Linked DNA regions of Homo sapiens: region 2 is linked to region 1. A link means that fine-mapping ties the variant in region 1 to the expression of a gene that starts in the linked region. Tissue or cell type: whole blood. Region 1 holds a variant in brackets; the other region holds the start of a gene. All regions are shown on one strand. Distances are from middle to middle.

Region 1 (8,260 bases):
ATTCCAGCTACTCAGGAGGCTGAGCCATGAGAATCGCTTGAACCCAGGAGGTGGAGGTTGCAGTGAGCCGAGATCACGCCACTGCACTACAGCCTGGGTGACAGAGCCAGACTGTCTCAAAAAATAAATAAATAAAAACTGCAGATAAAGATGATGAGACAGGAGTATTCTCTTTAGAAATCAGAGTGGACACAGACTTACTTTGCCTGCTGCTTTGGGAAATGGCTTAGATCCATCAGGCACAAGGTATGTAACCCATGGTGAAAACCCAGACTACCTGCACTCCTCACGTTAGTCCTAAGTTATATTTCTTCCTTGCCTTCAGAAAGCTGTCACAGCAATGGTTAACATTCCTTGAGGCACTAGGCTGTGAAGTGCTTCTCATAGATTATCTCACTGAAATCTGACAGCTCCCTAGGAAGACAGGTATTGTAACCACATGCTCATCAGAGTCTCTAGGCTACTCTCTCTTTTTTTTTTTTTTAATTTTAATTTTAATTTTTGTTTTATTTATTTATTTATTTATTTTTATTGATCATTCTTGGGTGTTTCTCACAGAGGGGGATTTGGCAGGGTCATAGGACAATAGTGGAGGGAAGGTCAGCAGATAAACAAGTGAACAAAGGTCTCTGGTTTTCCTAGGCAGAGGACCCTGCGGCCTTCCGCAGTGTTTGTGTCCCTGGGTACTTGAGATTAGGGAGTGGTGATGACTCTTAACGAGCATGCTGCCTTCAAGCATCTGTTTATCAAAGCACATCTTGCACCGCCCTTAATCCATTTAACCCTGAGTGGACACAGCACATGTTTCAGAGAGCACAGGGTTGGGGGTAAGGTCACAGATCAACAGGATCCCAAGGCAGAAGAATTTTTCTTAGTACAGAACAAAATGGAAAGTCTCCCATGTCTACTTCTTTCCACACAGACACAGCAACCATCCAATTTCTCAATCTTTTCCCTACCTTTCCCTGCTTTCTATTCCACAAAACCGCCATTGTCATCATGGCCCGCTCTCAATGAGCTGTTGGGTACACCTCCCAGACGGGGTGGTGGCCGGGCAGAGGGGCTCCTCACTTCCCAGTAGGGGTGGCCGGGCAGAGGCGCCCCTCACCTCCCGGACGAGGCGGCTGGCCAGGCGGGGGGCTGACCCCCCCACCTCCCTCCCGGACGGGGCGGCTGGCTGGGCGGAGGACTGACCCCCCCCACCTCCCTCCCGAATGGGGCGGCTGGCCGGGCAGAGGGGCTCCTCACTTCCCAGTAGGGGCGGCTGGGCAGAGGCGCCCCTCACCTCCCGGATGGGGCGGCTGGCCGGGCGGGGGGCTGACCCCCCCACCTCCCTCCCGGACGGGGGGCTGACCCCCCCACCTCCCTCCCGGACGGGGCGGCTGGCCGGGCGGGGGGCTGACCCCCCCACCTCCCTCCCGGACGGGGGGCTGAACCCCCCACCTCCCTCCCGGACGGGGCGGCTGGCCGGGCAGAGGGGCTCCTCACTTCCCAGTAGGGGCAGCCGGGCAGAGGTGCCCCTCATCTCCCGGACGAGGCGGCTGGCCGGGCGGGGGGCTGACCCCCCCACCTCCCTCCCGGACGGGGCGGCTGGCCGGGCAGAGGGGCTCCTCACTTCCCAGTAGGGGCGGCCGGGCAGAGGCGCCCCTCACCTCCCGGACGAGGCGGCTGGTCTAGGCTACTCTCTTAACTACTGTGTTATACTTCTGGGGTTGGGGGGCGGGGAGTAGTGGCAAAACTCTTGCATATATTGGCCTGTACACACCTCTGGGGAGATGATTGCGTTGAATCTGATGTCAGAGAACACAGCTTTAGATCTTGAAGGGGTTTTGGTTCAATCCTGTCTCTTGCAGTTGAGATACACTTAGGGCACATCAGTTACGAATGTGGCCTCTTGGACAATGCTATACCCAACTTGCCAGCCAGGTCCCAAGATGTTTAAGAAGTTAACAGTGTAAAAGAAAGGGAAAGAATGGAGTGGACATCATTATTTTCTTCTTTCGCAAGACTTAGAAAACAGCTGCCTGCTTTCAGGAAGGTAGTGTTTTTTCCTTTGGAATAAGGTGTGTGTGAGTATGTCCTGTTTCTGCTTCATGGTCTGGACTCTGATGAAATTGGCAAAGGCTTAAAGGAATAGGTGAAGGTACTCATGCCCCATGTGAAGGTCAAGTGTGGTGTCAGGCTGTCTCACAGGTAGTGCAAAGATATACCACATGGCTGAAAGTAGGATATGCAAAGTTGTCAACATCGAATTTAGTTCATATTTTTATGGGGCCATCTAATTCCCCAGTGCCCACTTCTGGGATTCCCTTTTTTTCCTTCTCAAAGCTTCACTCATGATCTTTTACATAAAAATTCAGGAAATTGATGCAGTTCTAAAAATGACATTGCATTTTGAGAGGCTAAACCCCTAAGAGGTGACTAACTGAAGACAAAGACAAAAAACTACCATTTGTTTCAACATATAATAAGATTCCCATTTTGTAGAATAGTTAAACCACAAAGTAAGGGCAATTTCTCTCTACATTCAACTACAGTGGGAAGAGTCTTCCCCATCCTCACCAGGATGCTGTCACTCTTCCGTAGCACTGAGAATGCAAATGCAGGACATGAACAGTAATGACAAGAAGCCAAACATGTGTATGTTTTACTGGAACTTCCAAGGACCTACAAAGAAAGGATAGATGGGATCAGACCTCAGATGTGCTGGAAAAACCACCTCTTTCCCTTTTTATTTATGTAGACTCAGAGTTGCTCTGCAAATTGCACCGAGAAGAACTGCAGTAATGTTTTACATAAAAGAGGAAACAACTTCTCTTCCTCCAGTGTACAGACTCTCCCTTCCTCACCTCTCAGTGCTCACCTTTAGGACAGCATATAAAGGAACTGAAGAGTTTCAGATTAGTTCAACCAACCACATAAACCATTCTGTTCCTACGCCTAGTGATTCATGGGGCCCACTCTATGGGCTGACTGTAATAAGAAGGAAGTGGGGGGGGGGAATCTCTCATCTACATTTTATTGTGGGGGTTCTTAACCTTTGGTATTTCACAGCAGGTGTATAAATTTCTAAAGCTTCCTACATACCTAAAGAGAGAGTAAAAACAGGCAAAGGGTCAGTAGCAGGGCAGGAGTAAGATAAGTCTCAGGCCGGGTGTGGTGGCTCAAAGCCTGTAATCCCAGCACTTTGGGAGGTCGAGGTGGGAGGATCACTTGACCCCCCCCAGAGTTCAAGACCAGCATGGGCAACATGGTGAGACCTCGTTTCTATAGAAAAAAAAATTTTTTTAAAGTCAGGTATGGTGGCACATGCCAGTAGTCCCAGCTACTCAGGAGGCTGAGAAGGGAGGACTGCTTGAGCCTGGGAGGTCAAGGCTGCAGTGAGCTGTGACTGCACCACTGCACTGCAGCCTGGGTGACAAAGATCCCATCTCTAAAATAAAGATAGGTCACAGAAGAACAAAAGAAGAAACTGGGAAGAGGCTTTTGAAAAGCATTTGAGAGCAGAGAGAATAAATAAAGCAAAGACCCTTGCGAAAGGAATGACTCAGCTGTTCAGGATGGAGGTCTCAGGAAAAGAGGCAGGCCCAGATCTGCCTACTCATCTAGCAGGATGGAAGGAGGACACTGATACATAGTGGGTTGATAAGAGGCACAGTCTAACAGTCTTGGTGGTGGTCAAGAGGGACAAAAAGGAGAGGTACAGGAGAAACAAGACACATCTGTAGTATGATCGCACAAATTTGCTGGAGAAATCCTTTGTTTAAGTCTCTCTACCACCAAGCAGCCAAAAACTTTTTGTTGAGGTCTTCATTCCTAGAGTTAACTTCCCACCTGGAGGCGTAAGATTATTATTAGTATCTGAGGGAAGCAGAAATGTCCTGAGGGTGATTTTATAATGAACTGCCACTTAGGAATTTGCCACACAGCCTTCAAAGCACTTTTAGGCTCTCAGATGGCAATCTAAATGAAAAAGCAAGGACTTTTAAATTTTTTTTGAATTACAATGTTAGCACTCCTAGGATTCTTTAATCTTTCTTACCCACAGAGAATAAAGCTACAGGTATGGTTTGACTGCAAGAACAAACAGCAGGTTCCACTGCTGTGCTTTTGTCACATTTTCAGTGGTTCATATAATGCAGTTATCCCAGTACAGCTTTTATTAACATTTTTTTTTAATTTTTGTTTTTTGGAGACAGGATGTTGTTCTGTCATCCAGGCTGGAGTACAGTGGCAGATCATAGCTCATTGCAGTCTTGAATCCCTCGGCTAAAGTGATCCTCCCACTTCAGTCTCCTGAGGAGGTAGGAGTACTGGTGTGCGCCACCACCCTATGCTAATTTTAAAATTTTTTTTGTAGAGATGGGGTCTTGCTATGTTGTCCAGGCTGGTCTTTAACTGCTGGGCTTAAGTGATCCTCCCACCTTGGCCTCCCAAAGCACTGGGATTACAGGCATGAGCTACCACACCCAGCCTCAGTATGGTTTTTTGACGCAGTCAGAATTCCT[C/T]GGGAGATTTTAGGTTACCAGAAATAGCCAATGATTGGGTAAGAAGATGCCTACTGAACACATTCAAGATTTCAGTTCAGGCCGGGCATAGTGGCTCACGTCTGTAATCCCAGCACTTTGGGAGGCTGAGGCGGGTGGATCATGAGGTCAGGAGTTCAAGACCAGCCTGGTCAATATGGTGAAACCCCATCTCTACTAAAAATACAAAAATTAGCCAGGTGTGGTGGCGGGTGCCTGTAATCCCAGCTACTCAGGAGGCTGAGGCAGGAGAATCACTTGAACCCGGGAGACAGAGGTGGCAGTGGGCCAAGACTGCATCACTGTACTCCAGCCTGGGTGACAGGGCAAGACTCTGTCTCAAAAAAAAAAAAAAAAAAAAAAAAGATTTCCACCCAGTTACAAATTAGGTGTTGAAAAAGCACACCTTGCATATTACCTACTGCAAGGCTCTGATGTGTTATGAACATATCACCGAGACCATTCAGTATCAATGGAGAGATTTCCCCAGCATGTGTGGAAGCTTACACTGAAGGAAGAGCATTAAAGCAGATTGTTTTCTACTTAATCCTAAAGAAAAAACCCACAACATCCAGCAGTGACATGTATAATTCTTTTTTTTGAGACAGAGTTTCATTTTGTTGCCCAGGCTGGAGTGCAATGATGCAATCTTGGCTCACTGCAACCTCCACCTCCTGGGTTCAAGCCATTCTCCTGCCTCAGCCGCCTGATTAGCTGGGATTACAGGCATGTGCCACCATGCCTGGCTAACTTTTGTATTTTTAGTAGAGATGGGGTTTTGCCATGTTGGCCAGGCTGGTCTTGAACTCCTGACCTGAGGTGATCCACCCGCCTCAGCCTCCCAAACTGCTAGGATTCCAAGCATGAACCACCACTCCCGGCCTATAATTCTTGGGTGTCTAAACTATTACCAATGAATACAACTTTAGGTTTCTTCTCCCTTTAGTTATCTCGTCTCTTCTCTCTAGATTTAAACTTAAGCAAGCAGAAGCCTCTGGGATTCTGTACTGACTAGAATAATTCACTGCTTCCTTCTTATTGCGAGTCCCCGTCCATCATAATCCTCCCTGGATCATGCTGAATAAACAGCTGGTGACTTGAGATGGGGAGAAATTCTACAGAGTTTCCTTGCCTGAGCCTTTCAAGGGCTAAGACTCAAAATGTTCAACTGCCTAAAGCAATAAACACCAAAAGAGGTTAAATTTCGAATTTGCTTTTCGCTTATCTAGCAGTGGACAACTAATGAACCCAACAATCAGGCAAAATCTGAGTTAGAAACATTTAGAACTGGAAATTGACCTTAAGGATAACATAATTCAATTCCTTCACCCTTCAGTGAAAAAACAACTTCCTCTTACAGGAATTGCTCCTAGTTTTCCCGCTTATAGTCTGGAATGTTTATCCCCAGAAGGAGAGAGCTTTTTAAAAAAGGAACATGCTGGAAAGAGGATACTCAGACCATGGCTGACAGAACTTGTAGGAACCTCACTTGGAGGTGGTTTCTACTGTGGTTCTACTGTGGTTTCAGTTAGGTCGCAAGGAGAGGTGACCCATCTACATGGTCATCCATTCATGGGTACAGTTTTATTTTATGACCGCTCCAAGCCTCTTAGGACACTCCACAGTGTCTTTGTTATTGTTCCTTGTGTTTGGTGCTTCTCTCTGAAAACAGGATTATACATTCCTGGCCTGTTAAATACAGGCTGGCCATGTGACCTGCTTTAGTAAAATCTGAGTAGCCAAGCGAAAAATGTTAAAAATTGTGTACCATGTTTTCCTTTTTCTCTTTGAGATTCACAGTGTTCCAGATATGGGCTGCTTTGCCCACTGGGATCCCTGCATGAAGCTGTTTTGGAACAGAGCTACAGCTGGCTCCTGGTGGATACACAGCATGAATGAGATCTAAAACTTTGTTTTTGTAAGCCTTTCAGATTTGGGGTCATTGATACCACAGCATAACTTAGCCTCTCCTGACTGAAACATCCTCCTTATTAAGTGAATCAAAAAAGTATAAAAAGTGGCCAGGAGTGCAGGCTCACGCCTGTAATCCCAGCACTTTGGAAAGCAAAGGTGGTGGATCACCTGAGGTCAGGAGTTTGAGACCAGCCTGGACAACATGGTGAAACCCCATCTCTACTAAAAATACAAAAACTAGCCAGGCGTGGTGGTACACACCTGTAATCCCAGCTACTCAGGAGGCTGAGGCAGAAGAATCACTTGAACCCAGGAGGCAGAGGTTGCAGTGAGCTAAGATCATGCCAATGCACTCCAGCCTGGGCAACAGAGCGAGACTCTGCCTTAAAAAAAAAAAAAAAAAATTATAGAAAACAACTCAGGTGTCAGCAACATAACAATGACTTTAGAATTATTTCACATTACATCTGGAGAACAATAATATTAGAGTTGACCTATGGGATGAAGAATGACCTATGAAAAGATAACTAGCTGGGCACTAAGGCAGTATGTGACTCAACTTTTATCATCTCATACAACTCCTGAATTCAGCCAAATTCTTACTATATTACCATACAATGCAACCATTAAGGTTAATTTGAGGGTGTATAAGATTTCTACAGCCTCATTTAATTCAAAGTCCAAGATGACAGCCACAATTCTTGGAAGTTAGTATTTTATAATTAATAAAGCAATGTAATATATACCAGATGTGAACGACAAAAACTAAACCAGTGACTTAAGTTACTGTTGACCAATGGGAGGAACAAAAAGTCAACAGTAATTAAACTATTTCAAACAAAAGTCTACTTGCCAGGTCAAGTATTGTGCCCATAATGGAATCAAGACCAAATATCCCAAACTAAAAGCAATGGGAAAAACTTGAAGGTCCCTCTAGTTTCGGGTATTTTAGCTACCTAAAAACCAAAAATAAAAACACCAGGAAAGAGGACAGACACACCTCCTCAGGTACAAACTGCAAGTTCAGTGACTTTGATTATTCCTAAGTTCTCCATGAGAAAATTCATCTAATAATTGGCAGTCTCTTTTGAGTAGGACAATACCATCCAAGTTTTTTTTTGTGTTTTTGTTTGTTTGTTTGTTTTGAGACAGAGTTCTGCTCGTCACTCAGGCTGGAGTGCAATGGTGCGATCTCCGCTCACTGCAACCTCCTTCTCCTGGGTTCAAGCAATTCTTCTGCCTCAACCTCCCGAGTAGCTGGAATTACAGGCACCTGCCACCACACCCAGCTAATTTTTGTATTTTTAGTAGACACGGGGTTTCACCACGTTGGCCAGGCTGGTCTTGAACTCCTGACCTCAGGTGATCCACCTGCCTCGGCCTCCCAAAGTGCTGGGATTACAGGCGTGAGCCACCACGCCTGGCCATCTTATTTTAGTTACAAAAATTTCTGGAGGATTTTGTTAAGTGAAACTATGCTAAGTGAAATAAGCCAGGTACAGAATGACAAATACCACATGATCTCACTTATATGTGGAATCTAAAAAAAGTTGAACTCATAGGCTGGGTGCAATGGCTCATGCCTGTAATCCTAGCACTTTGGGAGGCTGAAGGGGGAGGACTGCTTGAGGCCAGGAGTTCAAGACCAGCTTGGGCAACATAGCAAGACCCTGTCTTTATTTAAAACAAAAAAAAAAGTTGAACTCATAGAAAAAGAAATAGTGGTTACCAGGGGCCTTGGGGTGGGGGAGGAAGAGGAAGATAAGGAGATATTGGTCAAAGGGTACAAAATTTCAGTTAGGAGAAATAAGTTCAGGGTA
Region 2 (8,000 bases), 430 kb after region 1:
CAGATTACTTCTTGACCTTTCAGCTAAAATCAAGTGTAGTATCTGTTCTTATCAGTTTGACGTGTCCCTTATCTGAGGATGTAATAAAAATAAAAATAAATAAATGGAATCATGCAGTGTGTGATTTTTGTGACTGACTTCTTTCATTTAACCTAATTTTTCAAGTTTCTTCCATGCTATAGTGTACATCAGTACTTAATTTCTCTTTTTGTGGCCAAATAATATTCCATTAAATGGATATGCCACATTTTATGTATCCATTCGTCATCAGTTAATCATCATTTGGGGTGTTTCTATTTGGTTATTATGAATAATGCTGCTGTAAACATTCATGTACAAGTGTGTATGGACATATGTTTCCATTTCTTTGAGTACATACCTAGGAGTGGAATTGCTGGGTCGTATGGTAACTATGTTTATTTTATTTTTTTTTTTTTGAGACAGAGTCTCACTCTGTTGCCCAGGCTGGAGTGCAGCGGTGGCACTATCTCGGCTCACTGCAAGCTCCGCCTCCCAGGTTTATGCTATTCTCCCGCCTCAGCCTCCCAAGTAGCTGGGACTACAGGCGCCCGCCACCACGCCCGGCTAATTTTTTTTTGTATTTTTAGTAGAAACAGGGTTTCACCATGTTAGCCAGGATGGTCTCGATCTCCTGACCTCGTGATCCACCCGCCTTGGCCTCCCAAAATGTTGGGATTACAGGTGTGAGCCACCGCGCCTGGCCCTTTTTTTTTTTTTTTTTTTTGAGACAGCCTTGCTCTGTTGTCCAGGCTGCAGTGCAATGGCAGGATCTCAGCTCACTGCAACCTCCACCATCCAGGTTCAAGCAATTCTCCTGCCTCAGCCTCCCCAGTAGCTGGGATTATAGGCATGTGCCACCATGCCCTGCTAATTTTTTTTTTTTTTTTTTTTTTTGAGACAGACTCTTGCTCTGTCGCCCAGGCTGGAGTGCAATGGGGCGATCTCAGCTCACTGCAACCTCTGCCTCCCGGGTTCAAGTGATTCTCCTTCCTCAGCCTCTGGAGTAACTGGGATTACAGGCGTCCACCACCATGCCTGGCTAATTTTTGCATTTTTAGTAGAAACAAGGTTTTGCCATGTTGGCCAGGCTGCTCTCGAACTCCTGACCTCAGGTGATGCGCCTGCCTCGGCTGCCCAAAGTGCTGGGATTACAGGCCTGAGCCACCGCACCCGGCCTAATTTTTTCATTTTTGATAGAGGAGGGTTTTCGCCATGTTGGCCAGGCTGGTCTCAAATGCCTGACCTCAGATGATCCACTCACCTCGGCCTCCCAACATGCTGGGATTACAGGAGTGAACCACCGCGCCCAGCTCTCTATGTTTAATCTTTTGAGGAGCAGCCGGACTGTTTTCCAAAGTAGTTGCACCATTTTACAATCTCCCAGGAGTGTAGGACAGGTCCAATTTCTCCACACCCTTGCCAACACTTTGTTGTTACATGTCTTTTTATAATAGCTATGTTAGTAGTGTGAAGTGGGACCACATTGTGCTTTTGATTTGCCTTTCCCTGATGGCTACAATCCAAGGCCTTTTTGTAACCAGAATTTGCAATTAAGGTTATCTGTCTACCCAATTGTCATTTTCACCGGATGTGGTGATGGCTCTGGAGGACTTCAGGTTGTCCACTTTTCACTTTTTTCTCAACAGCACAGCAGTGCCCTCTGCACTATGATTATAAGCCATCCTGTCATTCAAAGCCTTCTTGAGCACCACTTGGATGCCAGGCACTGTGCTGGTTGCTGGGGATACAGCAACAAAGCAAGATCTCACCCCTTGGAAAGTATGGTGGTAAGCCTGTGGCCCTGGACTTGAATCCTTGCTTTCTCACCTCCCAGCCTTGTGGCCTTGGCCTTACCCATGCTCAGTTTTCTTGTCTGTGAAATAAGGTTGCTCTGGGAGTTACATGTTGAGCGCTTAGCACAGTGTCTGGTGCATAGTGAGTGCTCCGTAAGTATTTTTTATTGTTAAAGGTGAAGGCGGGGACAGTGGCTCATGCCTGTAATCTCAGCACTTTGGGAGGCGGAGGTGGCCGGATCACTTGAGGTCAGGAGTTCGAGACCAGCCTGGCCAACATGGTGAAACCCTGTCTCTACTAAAAATACAAAAGTTAGCCGGGTGTCGTGGCGCGTGCCTGTAATCCTAGCTACTGGGGAGGCTGAGGCAGGAGAATCACTTGAATCTGGGAGGTGGAGGTTGCAGTGAGCCAAGATCATGCCACTGCGCTCCAGCCTGGGCAACAGAATGAGACTCCGTCTCAAAAAAAAAAAAAAAGTGAAGCCAGACAATATAATAAATATTACAGTAACGGATAATGAGATGTGGGGGAAGTACAGAGTGTCATGGGAGCACATAGTGGCGATCCCCAGCCCAGTCCAGGGTCTAGGAAAGGCTATCTAAAGGAAGTGATGCTTAAATTGAGAGATGATGGATGAGCAGGAGTTGGCTAGATCAGATCAAGAGCAGTGTGTGTGTGTGTGTGTGTGTGTGTGTGTGTTCCTGGCAGGTGGAACAGAAGAGGCATGGCATACTGGGGAGACTGAAATGTGTTCAGAATGTCTAGAGCAGTGCTGTCTAATAGAACTCTATGTTTATGAAAAATGTCTCAGGCTGGCACGGTGGCTCACGCCTGTAATCCCAGCACTTTGGGAGGCTGAGGTGGGCGGAGCTCCTGAGGTCGGGAGTTTGAGACCAGCCTGACCAACATAGAGAAACCCCGTCTCTACTAAAAATACAAAATTAGCCAGACATGGTGGTGCATGCCTGTAATCACAGCTACTCAGGAGGCTGAGGCAGGAGAATCACTTGAACCTAGGAGGCGGAGGTTGCGGCGAGCTGAGATCGTGCCATTACACTCCAGCCTGGGCAACAAGAATGAAACTCCGTCTCAGAAAAAAAAAAAAAAAAGAAAGAAAAAAAGAAAAATTTGTCATCTGTGTGCTATCCGATATGGTAGCCACTAGCCACATGTGCCAACTGAGCATTTAAAATGTGGCTAATGGGACAGCAGAACTGAATGTTTACTGTTATTTTATTATGTATTTATTTTTGAGACAGAGTTTCCCTCTTGTTGTCCAGGCTGGAGTGCAATGGCACAATCTTGGCTCACTGCAAGCTCTGCCTCCCAGGTTTAAGCGATTCTCCTGCCTCAGCCTCCCAAGTAGCTGGGATTACAGGCACGTGCCACTACGCCTGGCTATTTTTTTTTATTTTTAGGAGAAATGGGGTTTTGCCATATTGGCCAGGCTGGTCTCGAATTCCTCACCTCAAGTGATCCACCTACCTTGGCTTCCCAAAGTGCTGGGATTACAGGTATGAGCCACCGCGCCTGGACTAATTTTGTATTTTTAGTAGAGATGGGGTTTCACTATGTTGGTCAGGCAGGTCTGGAACTCCTGACCTCAGGTGATCCACCCACCTCAGCTTCCCAAAGTGCTGGGATTACAAGCGTGAGGCCTATTATAATTGATTTAAATCTAAACAGTCATTGTGGCTAGTGACTATCTTATTGGATGGCGCAGGCCTAGAGTGTAATGTGCATGACAGGGTTGCCATGAGTGACGGATAGCGATGGAGAAGGGCATCTGGACTTTGAGGGCTCATGGTATGGAGTTTGCATTTTATTCCAAGCACCATGGGTGAGGTTTTGTGATTAAGTCAAGGCGTTAGGTGACCTGGTTTTCTTTTTTTTTCTTTTTTGACACAGAGTCTCGCTCTGTTGTCCAGGCTGGTGTGCAGTGGCACAATCTCAGCTCACTGCAACTTCCGCCTCCCAGGTTCAAGCGATTCTCCTGCGTCAGCCTCCCAAGTAGCTGAGATTACAGGTGCCCACCACCATATCCAGCTAATATTTGTATTTTTAGTAGAGATGGGGTTTTGCCATGTTAGCCAGGCTGGTCTTGAACTCCTGACCTCAAGTGATCCATGCACCTCGGCCTCCCAAAGTGCTGGGATTACAGGTGTGAGCCACTGCGCCCGGCCCTGGTTCCCATTTTTAAAAGGTCACTTCAGTTGCTATAAGGAGAAATGGATTATGAGTGTGGGGCAAGAATGAAGCAGGGAGACCAGTTTGGAGGTGGCTGCAGTTGCCCAGGGGAGCAGTGATAGTGGCTTGGACCACTCAGAAAGACAAATTTTGGAGGAAGAGCTGATGCCAGGTTTTGGGAGTGAGGGAGAGAGATTCCTAGGGCTACTTCGGTGGTGGTTGGGTCCCCAAGCTCCAAGACTGAGTCCAGACCAGGGCCCCGTTGGTGGTGAGGTCTGATTTTAGCAGTGCGTGCCCACCTCCTTGTCTCCACCTGCTGGCTGGTGCTTGGAGCACCTTTAGGGGAACTTTAGCCATCAGAGTCCTGGGGTCAGGAGGCTGGGAGAAGGTCCTGGGAGGTGGGAAAGTCCCCCAACTGCTGGGTGGATGGGTGGGTGGGACTGTGTTCCCAGGGGCATCTGCTGGGCTGAGCCTCTCCCTGGGGGCTGTCCACATCAGCTTTCTCCCCTGCCATGGGTCAACTCAGGCCCATTTATGGGCCACACGGCTGCTTGGAAGGCATGTGGTGGAGAAGGGGAGGAGATAGCTGTCAGTGGACTTGGGGAAGAATCCCCCATCCATGGCAGCTTCCATGGGTGGCAAGTCCCCAGCATCCAAGGGCTGCCTCTGAGTGTCACCCACCCCCACCTGAGACCTTAGTGGCTAGAAGGGGGAGGGGTGGGGGTGGAGCCTGATTCGCAGCAGGGTGTGTCCAGATGGTCAGTCTCTGGTGGCTAGCCTGTCCTGACAGGGGAGAGTTAAGCTCCCGTTCTCCACCGTGCCGGCTGGCCAGGTGGGCTGAGGGTGACCGAGAGACCAGAACCTGCTTGCTGGAGCTTAGTGCTCAGAGCTGGGGAGGGAGGTTCCGCCGCTCCTCTGCTGTCAGCGCCGGCAGCCCCTCCCGGCTTCACTTCCTCCCGCAGCCCCTGCTACTGAGAAGCTCCGGGATCCCAGCAGCCGCCACGCCCTGGCCTCAGCCTGCGGGGTAAGTCGGTGGGCAATGCTGGGGACGTTGGAGGGGGCCGGGTCTCCAAGCCTGACAGTGAATGATGGGGTGGGGAAGGCCTAGTGGGCTCCTGGCTTCTACAGCCTGGAGCCAGGGTCTGTGTGGGGCTCCAGCACCCTCTCCCTGGACCTCCACACCCCTTCCTCTGCTGCCAGGGTGGGTGAGGGTCCCAGGAGGTGGGGTGGGGGCTGGACAGACAACTGTTGCTGCTGGGGCTTGGGAGTCTAGGGCTGGAGGAATGGGCCAGGGTTTGGTTGGGGACACAGATGGGCTAAACGGTATGAAACGGAAAGAGCACCCTTCTGCCCCAGTGTGTGTAGAAAGGGTGGTGGGTCACATCTGCAAACTGAGGCAGCCAGGCAGCTCCCCACCTCCCATGTTTCCATGGGAAAATACCCCACCCGGGTCCCCAGGGCCTGGTCCCAGCCTACCCTCTCCACTTCCCTCTGCTGGTGCCGCTCCTCTCTGCTCTCTGCCCCCTGCCCCCTGCCCCCTTCTCCACCCTTCTGTCTCCTTACCACTCTTTGACTCCTTCTTCTTTCTGATCCTGCTCACTGGGCCCATGAGGGTTCCCCAACCCTGACCGAGGCCCCACCCTTGCCAAGTGATGGAGGCTGTGGTTTCAGTTTTCCTGTGAGGGTGAGATTGTGCTGTTTGCTGAGCTTCCTAGGCCAGCCTAGGGCCTGAGGCAGCGTGGTGGAGAGAGCCTGGGCCACAGGCTAGGGGCCTCCCTCCCTTCGTGAAGCCCCCAGAGGCCCTGAGGCACACAAAGGTAGTATTCGATGCCTTCAGAGCTGAATCAGACTGAAAATATAGACAGACCCTGAAAGGCTTTGAAAACGGAAGAGGAACGTCATGGTAGACGCATGGTGTCAGATCCGGCTCTGCCAACAACTGGCGACCTTGGGAAAGCCACTCCCCCTTTCTAAGCCTTAGTAGTCTTGGCAGCAAAATGAAGGGTTTGATAGTCTAGTGGTTTTCCCAGTTATTTCTTCTTAGAGCTCCCCTTCTTTGGCGAGGGGTTGAGTGACTGGCCCCATCCCAGTCATCGCACTTTTATCTGTTGGAATATTGGCTGCCAGGCAAGACGTTGTGTAAAGAAAGGGTTGTGCTGTTAATGTAAATGGTAACAGGGGTTGTGACCCCTCAGATTCCAGGAAGTCCCAGAGGAAAAGTCGGGGACAGTCATGGCTCTTCCTGGGGGACAACATCAAAAGGGTGGCCCTATTGGTTCCCTGTTCCTCACCCCACAGGCCTCCCTCCCTCTCCTCACCCCTGCTGCTCATCCCTCCTGGCCCACTTCCCCTGCATTGGGGCTGGGCTCCCACACAGTGGGTGGACCTACTTGCACTTGGCATTTTTGCCATTAGAAGTAATGAGAAGTAATGGCAAAAACCGCAATTTTTTTTTTTTTTTTTTTTGAGACAGAGTCTTGCTCTGTTGCCCAGGCTGGAGTGCAGTGGTGCCATCTTAGCTTCCGGGTTTAAGCAATTCTCCTGCCTCACCCTCCCTAGTAGCTGGGATTACAGGCACAAGCCACCATGCCCAGCTAATTTTTGTATTTTTTTTAGTGGAGATGGGGTTTCACCATGTTGGTCAGGCTGGTCTCTAACAGCTGACCAGCCAGCCTCAGCCTCCCAAAGTGCTGGGATTACACCCAGCCACCACGCCCAGCCTTTTGCACTAACCTAATACCTCCTTTTGCAGGCTCCAGTCAGGCCAACACCGACGCGCAGCTGGGAGGAAGACAGGACCCTTGACATCTCCATCTGCACAGAGGTCCTGGCTGGACCGAGCAGCCTCCTCCTCCTAGGATGACCTCACCCTCCAGCTCTCCAGTTTTCAGGTTGGAGACATTAGATGGAGGCCAAGAAGATGGCTCTGAGGCGGACAGAGGAAAGCTGGATTTTGGGAGCGGGCTGCCTCCCATGGAGTCACAGTTCCAGGGCGAGGACCGGAAATTCGCCCCTCAGATAAGAGTCAACCTCAACTACCGAAAGGGAACAGGTGCCAGGTGAGACAGCAAGTGGGGGCAGGGCAAAGGGGGCCCCCTGCCCAGCTCCAGCAGAGCACCCGGAGTGAGACTCATTGACTAGTCCAGCACCAGTGCCCCTTCCCACAGCCTGTGGAGTCCTCAGTCTGGCCCTGGTGGCTCCTGGGCCCGACAGGCTGCCTCTGCTCTGCCATCTGGCATTGCTCTTTCCAGAGGCTTCCCCATTCTTGGCCTTCTGCCTTCTGAGGTCATGTTCTTCATGAGATACATTCTTGAGCTCTAAGTCCTCAACTGACCCTCAAATCCCCCTGTTCATGCCAACTCCCACCCCTGTCATGGTCCCTGTTGGGGAAGGCAGCAGGATCCACACTCCATCCAGTGAGAATCAAGGACATCTGGAAATGTCCCAGGCTCTCCTCAGTTCTGCAAGACTGAGCCTGTCACTCAGGGGACGTGAACTGTGGGATTGGGGATGACAGGCTTCTGCTTGGAGTCATCTGCACTTTGATTTTCCTGTGGTCTTTCCACCAATTCAGACTGTGTGAGCACCACATTCCTGAGAGTCCCACTTCCAGTCCTGCTGCATTTGGCACCCCCTACTTCCCTGCCCGGGGGCGGGGCCTGCCCAGTGAGGCTGGAGAATCCTCATGGGCCAGGCTAGACTCTGCCACAGAAGCCCCTTCTTCCCTTCTCATGCTTGAGGTACAGCCACCAGCTTTGGCCTCGCAGGCTAGAGCTGCTTCCTGTTTGTGCTGGAGGACAGTGGTCAGATTCAGCACCAGGGTAGGGGAGGATGCATGAGGAGATTCTGGGAGCTGTGGAGCCTGCCCGACACAGGCAGGACGGGCCCTTGATGCTTTCAGTACCTCAATCTGTGCCCTCAATGGGCTTCCCTACCCCAGGACCATGATGCCACCCTGGTGACAGAAAGTTCTTTGTCCAAATGGCCACTTCTGCCAG

What was found. PIP is the estimated chance that this variant, and not a neighbour inherited with it, causes the effect.
Region 2: it holds the start of TRPV2, and the variant in region 1 is fine-mapped to the expression of TRPV2 in whole blood (TOPMed, PIP above 0.99).

What each region holds. Positions count from the first base shown.
Region 1 is chr17:15,978,478-15,986,737 of GRCh38, forward strand. ZSWIM7 (zinc finger SWIM-type containing 7) reads right to left here. Exons shown (of 5, transcript NM_001042697.2): 4 at 2,563-2,667. Among named protein-coding and RNA genes, the nearest start is that of ZSWIM7, 17 kb to the right of the region's middle. RefSeq lists enhancers at 76-661, 662-1,248, 3,626-4,315. The variant C/T (reference allele first, on the strand shown) is at 4,509.
Region 2 is chr17:16,410,808-16,418,807 of GRCh38, forward strand. TRPV2 (transient receptor potential cation channel subfamily V member 2) reads left to right here and starts at 4,764. Exons shown (of 15, transcript NM_016113.5): 1 at 4,764-5,026; 2 at 6,755-7,061. The coding sequence starts at 6,862. It also overlaps the pseudogene LOC124904150. RefSeq lists enhancers at 4,595-4,714, 5,665-5,734, 5,995-6,044, 6,385-6,494 and a silencer at 5,435-5,554.